Homo sapiens: one gene and its partners. The protein of the gene in region 3 interacts with the protein of the main gene of each other region in a biochemical or structural test. Each region holds a gene or a part of one and is shown on either strand. Other genes may lie near its edges. The genes, in order: STAT3, H3-3A and SETD7.

What was found.
Region 1: of the proteins of SETD7 (region 3) and STAT3, one has a biochemical effect on the other in vitro, tested with the Homo sapiens proteins (one study listed by BioGRID).
Region 2: of the proteins of SETD7 (region 3) and H3-3A, one has a biochemical effect on the other in vitro, tested with the Homo sapiens proteins (one study listed by BioGRID).

The regions. Positions count from the first base shown.
Region 1 is NC_000017.11:42,332,884-42,336,537, reverse strand, and holds part of STAT3 (signal transducer and activator of transcription 3), read left to right. Parts: intron 1-2,488; coding exon 2,489-2,647; intron 2,648-2,772; coding exon 2,773-2,865; intron 2,866-3,654. UniProt on the Homo sapiens protein: Signal transducer and transcription activator that mediates cellular responses to interleukins, KITLG/SCF, LEP and other growth factors. Once activated, recruits coactivators, such as NCOA1 or MED1, to the promoter region of the target gene.
Region 2 is NC_000001.11:226,069,039-226,072,594, forward strand, and holds the end of H3-3A (histone H3.3), read left to right. Parts: intron 1-2,312; coding exon 2,313-2,441; 3' UTR 2,442-2,981; downstream 2,982-3,556. UniProt on the Homo sapiens protein: Variant histone H3 which replaces conventional H3 in a wide range of nucleosomes in active genes. Constitutes the predominant form of histone H3 in non-dividing cells and is incorporated into chromatin independently of DNA synthesis.
Region 3 is NC_000004.12:139,532,071-139,535,724, reverse strand, and holds part of SETD7 (histone-lysine N-methyltransferase SETD7), read left to right. Parts: intron 1-2,358; coding exon 2,359-2,560; coding exon of another isoform or gene 2,561-2,596; exon of another isoform or gene 2,597-3,160; intron 3,161-3,654. UniProt on the Homo sapiens protein: Histone methyltransferase that specifically monomethylates 'Lys-4' of histone H3. H3 'Lys-4' methylation represents a specific tag for epigenetic transcriptional activation.

The DNA of each region.
Region 1 (3,654 bases), on a different chromosome or scaffold from region 3:
GAGCCTTGACCTCCTGGGCTCAGGCAGTCTTCCCACCTTAGCCTTCTCAGTAGCTGGGACTACAGGCATGCACCACCACACCTGGCTAATTTTTAAATTTTTTATAGAGACAGGGTCTTACTTTGTTGCCTGGGCTGGTCTCAAATTCCTGGGCTCAAGGGATCATCCCACTTCGGCCTCTCAAAAGCTCTGGAATTATAGATGTGAGCTGCCGTGCCCAGCCCAGGATCTTCCTTTATATGCTTTTCTGTAATTTGCACTTTTACCTTCATCCAGCATATCTTACTGCAACCCTTCCTGTGCAAGGCCCTATAGTGAGCATGTTGCACCAGCTTGCCTTAGGAGAAACTTGAGATACAGAGCCTGCACTGGAAATTTAGCGCAACTCTACATGAGAATGCCTGTCTATTCATATCCTCACTAACCCTGAGTGTTGTTAATTTACTGAAAGCAGTTTTAAATGCTTCCTGACCAGGGAACGAAGAAGCTTAAGTTCTGGGAATGGGAGGATAGAAGTGCCAGAAAAGAGCTCAGGAGTTCAGAAATCCCTGCAGCGGTCCCCCTCCCTCTCCTTTCACTTTCTGTCTTTCTGGTCTTTTGGTCTTTGTTACACTAGTGATAAACCATCAAAGAATGATGGAATGATGCTAACTTCTCTCTTTTTTTAATTTTTTTGAGACAGAGTCTCACTCTGTCACCCAGGTTAGAGTGCAGTGGCATGATCTTGGCTTACTGCAACCTCCTCCTCCCAGGTTCAAGCGATTCTTAGTCACAACCTTCCAAGTAGCTGGGATTACAGGCCCATGCCACCATGCCTGGCTATTTTTTTGTATTTTAGTAGATCGACCTGCCTCGGCCTCTCAAATTTTTGGGATTACAGGTGTCAGCCACTGCACCTGGCCTAATATCTCTATTCTTGGAGATAGATTTAATGAGCTTTTTCTCCCTCTCTATTCACTTATTCCTTGTGCATGTTATCAATATTTTGAAACATAATGTCATGTCCTTTGATCAGTTGAAGGCTGACATTGAAAAGGCTTATGGGGATTGGGTGTTGTGGCTCACGCCTGTAAATCCCAATGCTTTGGGAGGCAGAGTCGGGAGGATCACTTGAACCCAGGAGTTTGAGACCAGCCTGGGCAACAAAGTGAGATCCCATCCCTACAAAAATTTAAAAAACTAGACATGTGCCATTACACTTCAGCCTGGGTGACAGAGTGAGACTCCATCTCAAAAAACTAAACTAAACTAAACAGGCATGGTGGCACACACCTATAGTTCTAGCTACTCAGGAAGCTGAGGTAGGAGGATCACTCATGTCCAGGAGTTGGAGGAGGCAGTGAGCTATGATCATGCCATTGCACTGCACTAGGCCACAGAGTGGGACCCTGTCTCAAAAAAAAAAAAAGAAAGAAAGAAAAGAAAGGGCTCATGTAGTTCAAGCCCTTCTCTTCATGCAAGGGGATGCTAAGGCCCATGATGGTGAAGGGCCTGGCAAAGCTTGCACAGATAGTGTGTGACAGAGCTGGCTCAAACCCATCTTTGGGAGCTGTCTAATCTCTTTTTCTGAGTCTTTATGTTCATAGACAAGTTAGGATGAGTAAAGTAAGTGCTAAATTCCATATTTCGTGTTCTGCATATCTGGGCTCAGATGCTTGTCATTTTCCAGTGATAACTCCATCAATGCCTCCTAGTGGTATAAATTTTAATACTTCTTGTGTGCCCAGCCCCCTCTTAGAAATTTGAGATTTTAGGAAGGGACTAGTAATAAAAGGTAAAATAAATTATTTTCTGGCCAGGCATGGTGGCTCACACCTGTAATGCCAGTACTTCGGGAGGTCGAGGCAGATGGATCACCTGAGGTCAGGAGTTCAAGACCAGCCTGGCCAACAAGGCAAAATCCCATCTCTACTAAAAATGCAAAAATTATCCGGGAGTGGTGGTGGGTGCCTGTAATCCCAGCTACTTGGGAGGCTGAGGCAGGAGAATCACTTGAACTTGGGAGGCGGAGGTTGCAGTGAGCTGAGACTGTGCCACTGCACTCCAGCCTGGGCAACAGAGTAAGACTCTATCTCAAAAAAAAAAAAAAAAAAAAAAAGGCCAGGCGCAGTGGCTTACACCTGTAATCTCTCAGGAGGCTCAGGCAGGAGAATCACTTGAACCCGGGAAATGGAGGTTGCAGTGAGCCGAGATTGCACCACTGCACTCCAGCTCAAAAAATAAATAAATAAATAAATTATTTTCTTTTTTTATTTATTTTTTCAGCATCCACCCAACATGGTGAAAAATTCCTCTTTTCTTAATGTCACTGAACTGTAAACTTAAGATGAAAAATTGTAAATTTCATGCTATATATATTTCACCACAATAAAAAAATTCCTTGTTCTTATTGTAGTGGTCTCCATGTCTTCAGTATTTCCTTCCCCTTCTCCATCTCACCTGTATACATTCACTTTGGTAATTAGCATCTTTCTTAATTTATTGGCAGGATAACGTCATTAGCAGAATCTCAACTTCAGACCCGTCAACAAATTAAGAAACTGGAGGAGTTGCAGCAAAAAGTTTCCTACAAAGGGGACCCCATTGTACAGCACCGGCCGATGCTGGAGGAGAGAATCGTGGAGCTGTTTAGAAACTTAATGAAAAGGTAATTTAGCATCCTTGTCCCTTTCCCTCATCTAAAAAATACCTAAAGACTCACGTGGTAGAGTGAGAGGCGGGCTGACTTCTGGTCATGGCCGTGGCGCGTGAGCCCATCTTCTCTTTCCTCAGTGCCTTTGTGGTGGAGCGGCAGCCCTGCATGCCCATGCATCCTGACCGGCCCCTCGTCATCAAGACCGGCGTCCAGTTCACTACTAAAGTCAGGTAGGCCATGCCACTTCCATTTCCAGTAGAGATTTTACTGAGGGACACTGTTAGGGTGAGGGTAGAGTTGGTGGCCAGGGTCATTCTTTCCAGGTGTGGTGTCACAGGCAGTACACTGTTGCGGGGTTGAAATTTGTTGCCATACTATCTGCTTGCTCTCTGATTCTGATGTCAAAAGCAAAAGAGCAGTCATCTTTTTGAAGGTACCTGGGCATATTCCTATGATTGTAGACCTGGAGTCTCAGGCCACAGCTTCTCCTTCTGCCCAAGGGACAAAATAATGTCATCTATTTTCTGTTCTTTGAGGCTACTCTTCCCTGTGGATTTTAAGGGAAAGAGTAAGGCTTAGTGATGGGGAAGCTGAGAGGCCCCAGGGCAGGTGGGTGGTGGGCCTGTAGGGTGAGGTGTTACTTTCACACTCAAGTCAGAACAGGTGTGCTGGGGTTTTGACCTTCTGCAGCAAAATTTCCCTCCTCAGAAACTTAGTATGGTGTTCGGTTTCAGGATTAATAGAACAAAATGCCAGCTGCACAGCATGTGTTCCTGTAATATTTTTCATTATATGGCTTTGATTATCCTTTTGTGAATCTCTCACAACTTTAAGTTGTTAGTTCTTAGATGTTTTCTCAGTACCTTTGGCTTGAAGGAGTGATACTCATCTTTTGTTTTTGTTTGAGACAGGGTCTCACTCTCACCCAGGCTGGTGTGCAGTGGCATGATCTCAGCTCACTGCAACCTCCATCTCCCAGGTTCAAGTGATTCTTGTGCCTCAGCCTCCTGAGTAACTGG
Region 2 (3,556 bases), on a different chromosome or scaffold from region 3:
GTGAAAGTACCTTTTTTTTTTTTTTTTGAGACGAGTCACACTCTGTCACCTAGGCTGGAGTGCAGTGGTGCAATCTCGGCTTACTGCAGCCTCCGCCTCCCGGGTTCAAGCAATTCTCCTGTCTCAGCCTCCCAAGTAGCTGGGACTACAGGCACATGCCACCACGCCCAGCTACTTTTTGTATTTTTAGTAGAGACAAGGTTTCTCCGTGTTGGTCAGTCTAGTCTCAAGCTCCTGACCTCGGGTGATCTGCCTGCCTCGGCCTCCCAAAGTGCTGGGATTACAGGCGTGAGCCACCACGGCACCTGGTCTGGAATTTTTTTTATTAGAATAAAAATGCAACTATAAGACTGTTTTCTCCCTTAATATATCTTCAGCAGAGAAATAACTTTTCCTTATAGAAAAGGAGAGAGAGCCAACTAACCTATCATTTCATGCTCCAGATCCAAAACTGTTGGATTTATGATTATTTTTTAAAATGGTAATTTCTCCATTTCAAAATGAGTAAGCAGGCCGGGCATGGCGGCTCACACCTGTAATCCCAGCACTTTGGGAGGCTGAGGTGGGCAGATCACCTGAAGTTAGGAGTTCAAGACCAGCCTGGCCAACATGGTGAAACCCCATCTCTACTAAAAATACAAAATTAGCTGGACGTGATGGTGCATGCCTGTAATCCCAGCTACTCGGGAGGCTGAGGCAGGAGAATTGCCTGAGCTCGGGAGGTGGAGGTTGCAGTGAGCCGAGGTTATACCACTGCACTCCAGCCAGGGCTACAGAGCAAGACTCAAACCTCAAAAAACAAAAACAAAAAGAGTAAGCAGATGTTTTGGCTTAGACTAAAAGATTCTTCAGCTTTTCAGACAGCTATAAGTATACTAAGAATTTGAGTTATGAGTTAATTCTAAGTGGAAACGCCCCTTTTTCCTCTTCACAAGTTAAGTGTCAATGAGTGATTCATACACTGTCATTTTTAAGTGGTAGTAGGAATAAGATAACTTGAAAGGATCTTACAGTCAAATGGGAAAAACCAGAGAAATCGATACTAGTACTAGAGGGCAACAAATGCTGTTACAAATTGGGGTACGTAGAGGAAGGTACTTGGTAGAGGACAGGGGCATGTTTCCGGGGCATAGATCAAAGTATATAAATAAGGAACTGCCAGGCCAGTTGCGGTGGCTCACTCCTGTAATCCCAGCACTTTGGGAGGCCGAGGCAGGAGGATCACGAGGTCAGGAGATCGAGACCATCCTAGCTAACACAATGAAGCCCCATCTCTACTGAAAATTAGTCAGGCGTGGTGGTGGGCGCCTGTAGCCCGAGCTACTCGGGAGGCTGAGGCAGGAGAATGACATGAACCTGGGAGGTGGAGCTTGCAGTGAGCTGAGATCTTGCCACTGCACTCCAGCCTGGGCAACAAAGAGAGACTCCGTCTCAAAATAAATAAATAAGGAACTGCCGGGCGCGGTGGCTCACGCCTATAATCCCAGCACTTTGGGAGGCCAAGGTGGGTGGATCACGAGGTCAGGAGTTCGAGACCAGCCTGACCAACATGGTGAAACCCCTTCTCTACTAAAAATACAAAAAAGTAGCCAGGCATGGTGGCGCATACCTGTAGTCCCAGCTACTCGGGAGGCTGAGGCAGGAGAATCGCTTGAATCCGGGAGGTGGAGGTTGCAGTGAGCCGAGATCGCGCTACTGCACTCCAGCCTGGGCGACAGAGTAAGACTCCATCTCAGAAAGAAAGAAAGAAATACGGAACTAACTTGTGATATGTTCTGGAATCAAAAGTACTCTTATGATAAAACAGGTATGAAAGGGAACATAGATGAGAAGCATGTGATAAAAACCACTTGTTCACCATGTTATACTACTGGACAAGGCAGAGGTTCACATACTGTGTGAATGGGATTCAGAGTGAGGAGGAGACTAGGCTGGGATGGGGTATTTGGATTGGACATGATTGCGTTTATAAGAATGAGAGTGTTAAATTGGATTTCTTGCTTTATTTGTGACATTTCAGTTTATTAGAAATCATGTTACCATTAGAAAAATTGAAGTTTCCTAGTAACAAAGTAATTTGATTTGTGTAACTTGATAAAAGATTTACTGACTTAAGCTTTTGTTTTTTTTCATAAGCTGCTTTTGAGCTTTGTCCCACAGGTTGTAAAATGTAAGCATTTGGTAAAATTGTCAGCATCTTGCCCAGTCATTTTTTTAAAGGGTTCAAAAACCTTTTTGTTTTAATTCGTATAGTTGGGTCTTAACTATTGGAAATAACATCATCAGTAATTTTTTCTTCATTCCTTTTGCAGGAGGCAAGTGAGGCCTATCTGGTTGGCCTTTTTGAAGACACCAACCTGTGTGCTATCCATGCCAAACGTGTAACAATTATGCCAAAAGACATCCAGCTAGCACGCCGCATACGTGGAGAACGTGCTTAAGAATCCACTATGATGGGAAACATTTCATTCTCAAAAAAAAAAAAAAAAATTTCTCTTCTTCCTGTTATTGGTAGTTCTGAACGTTAGATATTTTTTTTCCATGGGGTCAAAAGGTACCTAAGTATATGATTGCGAGTGGAAAAATAGGGGACAGAAATCAGGTATTGGCAGTTTTTCCATTTTCATTTGTGTGTGAATTTTTAATATAAATGCGGAGACGTAAAGCATTAATGCAAGTTAAAATGTTTCAGTGAACAAGTTTCAGCGGTTCAACTTTATAATAATTATAAATAAACCTGTTAAATTTTTCTGGACAATGCCAGCATTTGGATTTTTTTAAAACAAGTAAATTTCTTATTGATGGCAACTAAATGGTGTTTGTAGCATTTTTATCATACAGTAGATTCCATCCATTCACTATACTTTTCTAACTGAGTTGTCCTACATGCAAGTACATGTTTTTAATGTTGTCTGTCTTCTGTGCTGTTCCTGTAAGTTTGCTATTAAAATACATTAAACTATACCTGCTTTTGGTCTTTATTATAGCCTTGCCCTACAATTATATTCCAAATAATTTCAGTATTAAGTCCTTTAATAGTCACTTTATATCTGAGACGTGAGACTTATTGAGAGAGAAGGAAAGTATAGACTTGGTGGCAAAAGGAACTTGGCTTTATTTCTAATTTTTAGAAGCTTGCCACTACCCAGTGGTCTTAACTCTTTGGATGTGTTGTCTTCTGAACCAATAATTCGAAAAGCTAATCAACAGGATCACCTGGAAATAGTGGAATCTGTAAGTAGATTGAACTTTCATGAATGTTTAATAACAAATGAGAGTGTGTAACAGTCTTTAGCTCAAAAATTAATGCATTCAAGATCTGGCTATTTTAAGATGCTCTATTAGTTAACCCTGAATTTATTCAAGCACTAATAGTTAATTCTTAGCCCTGTTTTATTTAGTGTTGGTACAATTAATGTGAAATGAGGATAATTAAACCTTCTAAGACTTTTAACACATCCCATTAGTTGTAACGTTTGAGTGTTTGAAACTGCCCTAGAAGTGATACGAAATGTTAATAACTATGCCAAGAATAGACGCATGTCAGTAAGATACG
Region 3 (3,654 bases):
TGCCTTAAGAGTTTGCATTTGTGTACTTTGAGTCAGTTGGGCTAAGAGGGAAATAGCAGTTTGTTCTTCGTACTCTGATAGATGGGATGATGGGCTCCATGGGTAAGGGAGGTTAGGACAAGCCACTGAATACAGTTGGGGGAAATGTCTGCAAGTCCATATTATTTTTTGTCTGATTTGCAAGACCTGTTTCTTGTAGATTTGATCATAACCCTGAGAAATATTGGCAGACTAGTCTGTCAGGGAGTAATATTCTACCCAAACTCACACAGGAACATTTTGAATGCTGCTGAGAGTCCAAAGTCAATAGGGTTGCCAGGATGAGCAAATAAAAATCTAGTTAAATCCAGGACACCCAGTTAAATTGGAATTTGCTCAACAAAAAAAGTAAGTATAATTATATCCCATTCACTATTTGGGACATTCATAAACTAAAAAATTATTTGTTGTTTATCTGAAATTCAAACTTAGCTGGGAATCCTGTATTATACCTGGCAATCCTAAAAATGAAGATAAATGAATAGTTTCTTGCACTACATAAATTACATCATTATGTCACTTGATTAGTACCCTTCACCAATGATTTTTTTTTTAATTGTGGGAGTCTAATGACAGTTGAATCTCATTACTTCCAACCTCACTGTTTTAGAATTTTGATTATTTATGCAAGAGCTATGCTAAAGTGCACTTTATTCTCTTCATGAATTTAGGAAGCCTATTTGTCATTGATAGTACAAATAAAACTGAAAGAAAACTATTTATCTCCTTGGGATACTACAAATAGTATAATTACCTTTTAACCAGAAGCTATCATTATTTAGAATCTGCTTTTCATTTAATAATTATAGATCATTCACAGTTGTTCATTGAAATAAGTCAAGACTTTACCAGACAGAGTCAGGTGCAGCCACCTAAGTCCTGATGGCCCGCTTTGCGTCCCATCTGCTCCAGTTCACAGTGTGTCTTGCCAGTCTCTCCTATACCATTGTGTTTGTTTTGTTCCTTATCCGCTCTAGAGCCTCACACAATGCTTGCTACTGAGAAGGCACACTGTAAATGTTGACTAGTTGTGGCTGGGAGGCCGAGTTGGGTGGATCCCTTGAGCCCAGGAGTTCGAGACCAGCATACGTAACATGACAAAACCTCATCTCTACAAAAAAAAACAAAAATTAACCCGGTGTGGTGACACATACCTGTGGTCCCAGCTACTTGGGAGGCTGAGGTGGGAGGATGGCTTGAGCCCCAGGAGGTCGAGGCTGCAGTGAGCCATGATCATGCCACTGCACTCCAGCCTGGGCAATAGAGCAAGATCCTCTCTCGAAAAAAAAAATTACTAGTTGAATTAATGAATAAATACTCTCTGCCTATGTTAAAATAATCAAGCTGTCTTTGTTTCAAAATTTTCTTACATTTTAAATTTTAAAAATAATTTGAGTTGGTCTTTCCCTATTCCAAATTTTAGTACTTAAAGGGAATTTTGGGTGTTTCATTGCATAGGGCCTTTCAGAGGATAACAATGAAAACATGTTCCTGAACTTGCAAATATATATTACAAGGAGAGAGATGGAGAAGTGCTGGTAAAATCACGTGAGCATCCCTGTGAGCTTTCTTCTGGTATAGGACCGTGGGTCTCAAACTATCAGGATGCTAATGATATCAGCAGGGTGGAGCATTCAGTCTTCCTTACTTGCCCCTACTGGCCATGATCATGGATGTATGTATATACATAGATATACATACATACATACATACATACATAGATATATAGATATACTTAAATAAATCCCCATATGTCTTCCAAGGAGATGGAAGGGATTTCATTTGACTGGATACCAATTACGGCTATTAATGATAAATAATACATTAGTGACTTGAAACAAATGTGTAGACATTCACACACTTTAAGCCACATTTCTATCATTAGAGATTACTATATACAAGCCATCTGAAAGACCCTTGAGAACTACCAGTGAATTCTGGAGCACTCTTGAGGGAAATTAGACATGAATGGTTTGCTTGTGGAACAGGTAACACCAGAATTTCTATTGCCTGAAAACATACTCAAGTGAACTTGTTCTCAGTTTCCATCAGTAGCTTTTTTCTTCTCTATTTTCTCCAGCAGAGTAAAAGGATTCCCAGGAACCATGAGATTGGGTATTAAATCTCCGTCTTTCTTCTCAGTCTTACCCACGTCCATGAAGCACCTTTTCCTAGCAGTCGATGATAATTTAGGAGGCTGCGCTGAATCCATGTCAGGGCTGACACAGCTGGGCATGCAGTTCCTTGGATATGATCCTTTCTTCTAAGAGAGTCAAGTCATGGTCTGACTATTCCTTTTTGTTTTTCCTTTCCTCACAGCACCCTGGAGGGGTATTATGTGGATGATGCCTTGCAGGGCCAGGGAGTTTACACTTACGAAGATGGGGGAGTTCTCCAGGGCACGTATGTAGACGGAGAGCTGAACGGTCCAGCCCAGGAATATGACACAGATGGGAGACTGATCTTCAAGGGGCAGTATAAAGATAACATTCGTCATGGAGTGTGCTGGATATATTACCCAGTAAGCCGTGTGACTGTTCACTCTGCTGGAAAGTAACATACTGTGACTCTTCACAATGAAGAGTAAAATGTATTCTGTGTTAGAACTTGGGAGCTGTGAAACCTGAGAGTCACCACAGCTGACACCAAGAGTTTATGAGGCATGCCCTCTCACTGTTACTCACTATTGGCTTAGATTGTTGGCCCTTGAATCCGTTATTAATTATTTTTCAGCGTTGTTTTGGAAAGGAGTAATTAATCATGATTAAAACAAATTGAGACAAATTGGTTTTATTGTATCACTAATAAAGGCAAAATATATTGCTTTTAATTCTTTTGGCACATAGAGGGAGATAGTGGAAATTTTCATTGTTGCTATTAGTTTTATTTCCTGTTTCTCATATGTAAAAACCAGTCCAGCAATTTTTAATTTGGGAGAGCTTACTGCACTGTTGTTACTTGATTCTACAATTCCACTAACTGCTTTTTAAGGTATTTTATGGTTTATATTGTTTAAATTAAGGTGATTAAAATTAACTTACCTTTGAGTATTTGATAGCATTTTATGATATTTCTGGAGTCTATTAAAGTAAAAAGATATGGCAGAACCCATGGTTGGAAATTAATGCTCTAATTTTTGTTTGCATTTCAAATGTCCCATCTGTTGTTACTGAATTTCCAGAAAATGTTACAGAAAATACACCTTAGAAAACACTTTATCTTTATTTTATTTTATTTTTTATTTATTGAGACAGGGTCTTGTTCTGTTGCCCAGGCTGGAGTGCAGTGGCACGATCTTGGCTCACTACAACCTCCATCTCCCAGACTCAAGCCATCTTCCCACCTCAGCCTCCTTAGTAGCTGGGATTACAGGCCTATGTCATCACATCTGGCTAATATTTTTGTGTTTTCTTTTTTGAGACAGGGTTTCTCTAAAACCTAGTCTCGAACTCCTGGGCTCAAGCAATCCACCTGCCTTGGCCTCCTGAAATGCTGAAATTACAGGCATGAGCCATTGCACCTGGCTAGAAAATATTTTGCTTAATACTTTATTTTGTTCATAACTTAAGTCAAAATACTCTTTTTTTGTTTTGAGACAGAGTCTTGCTCTGTTGC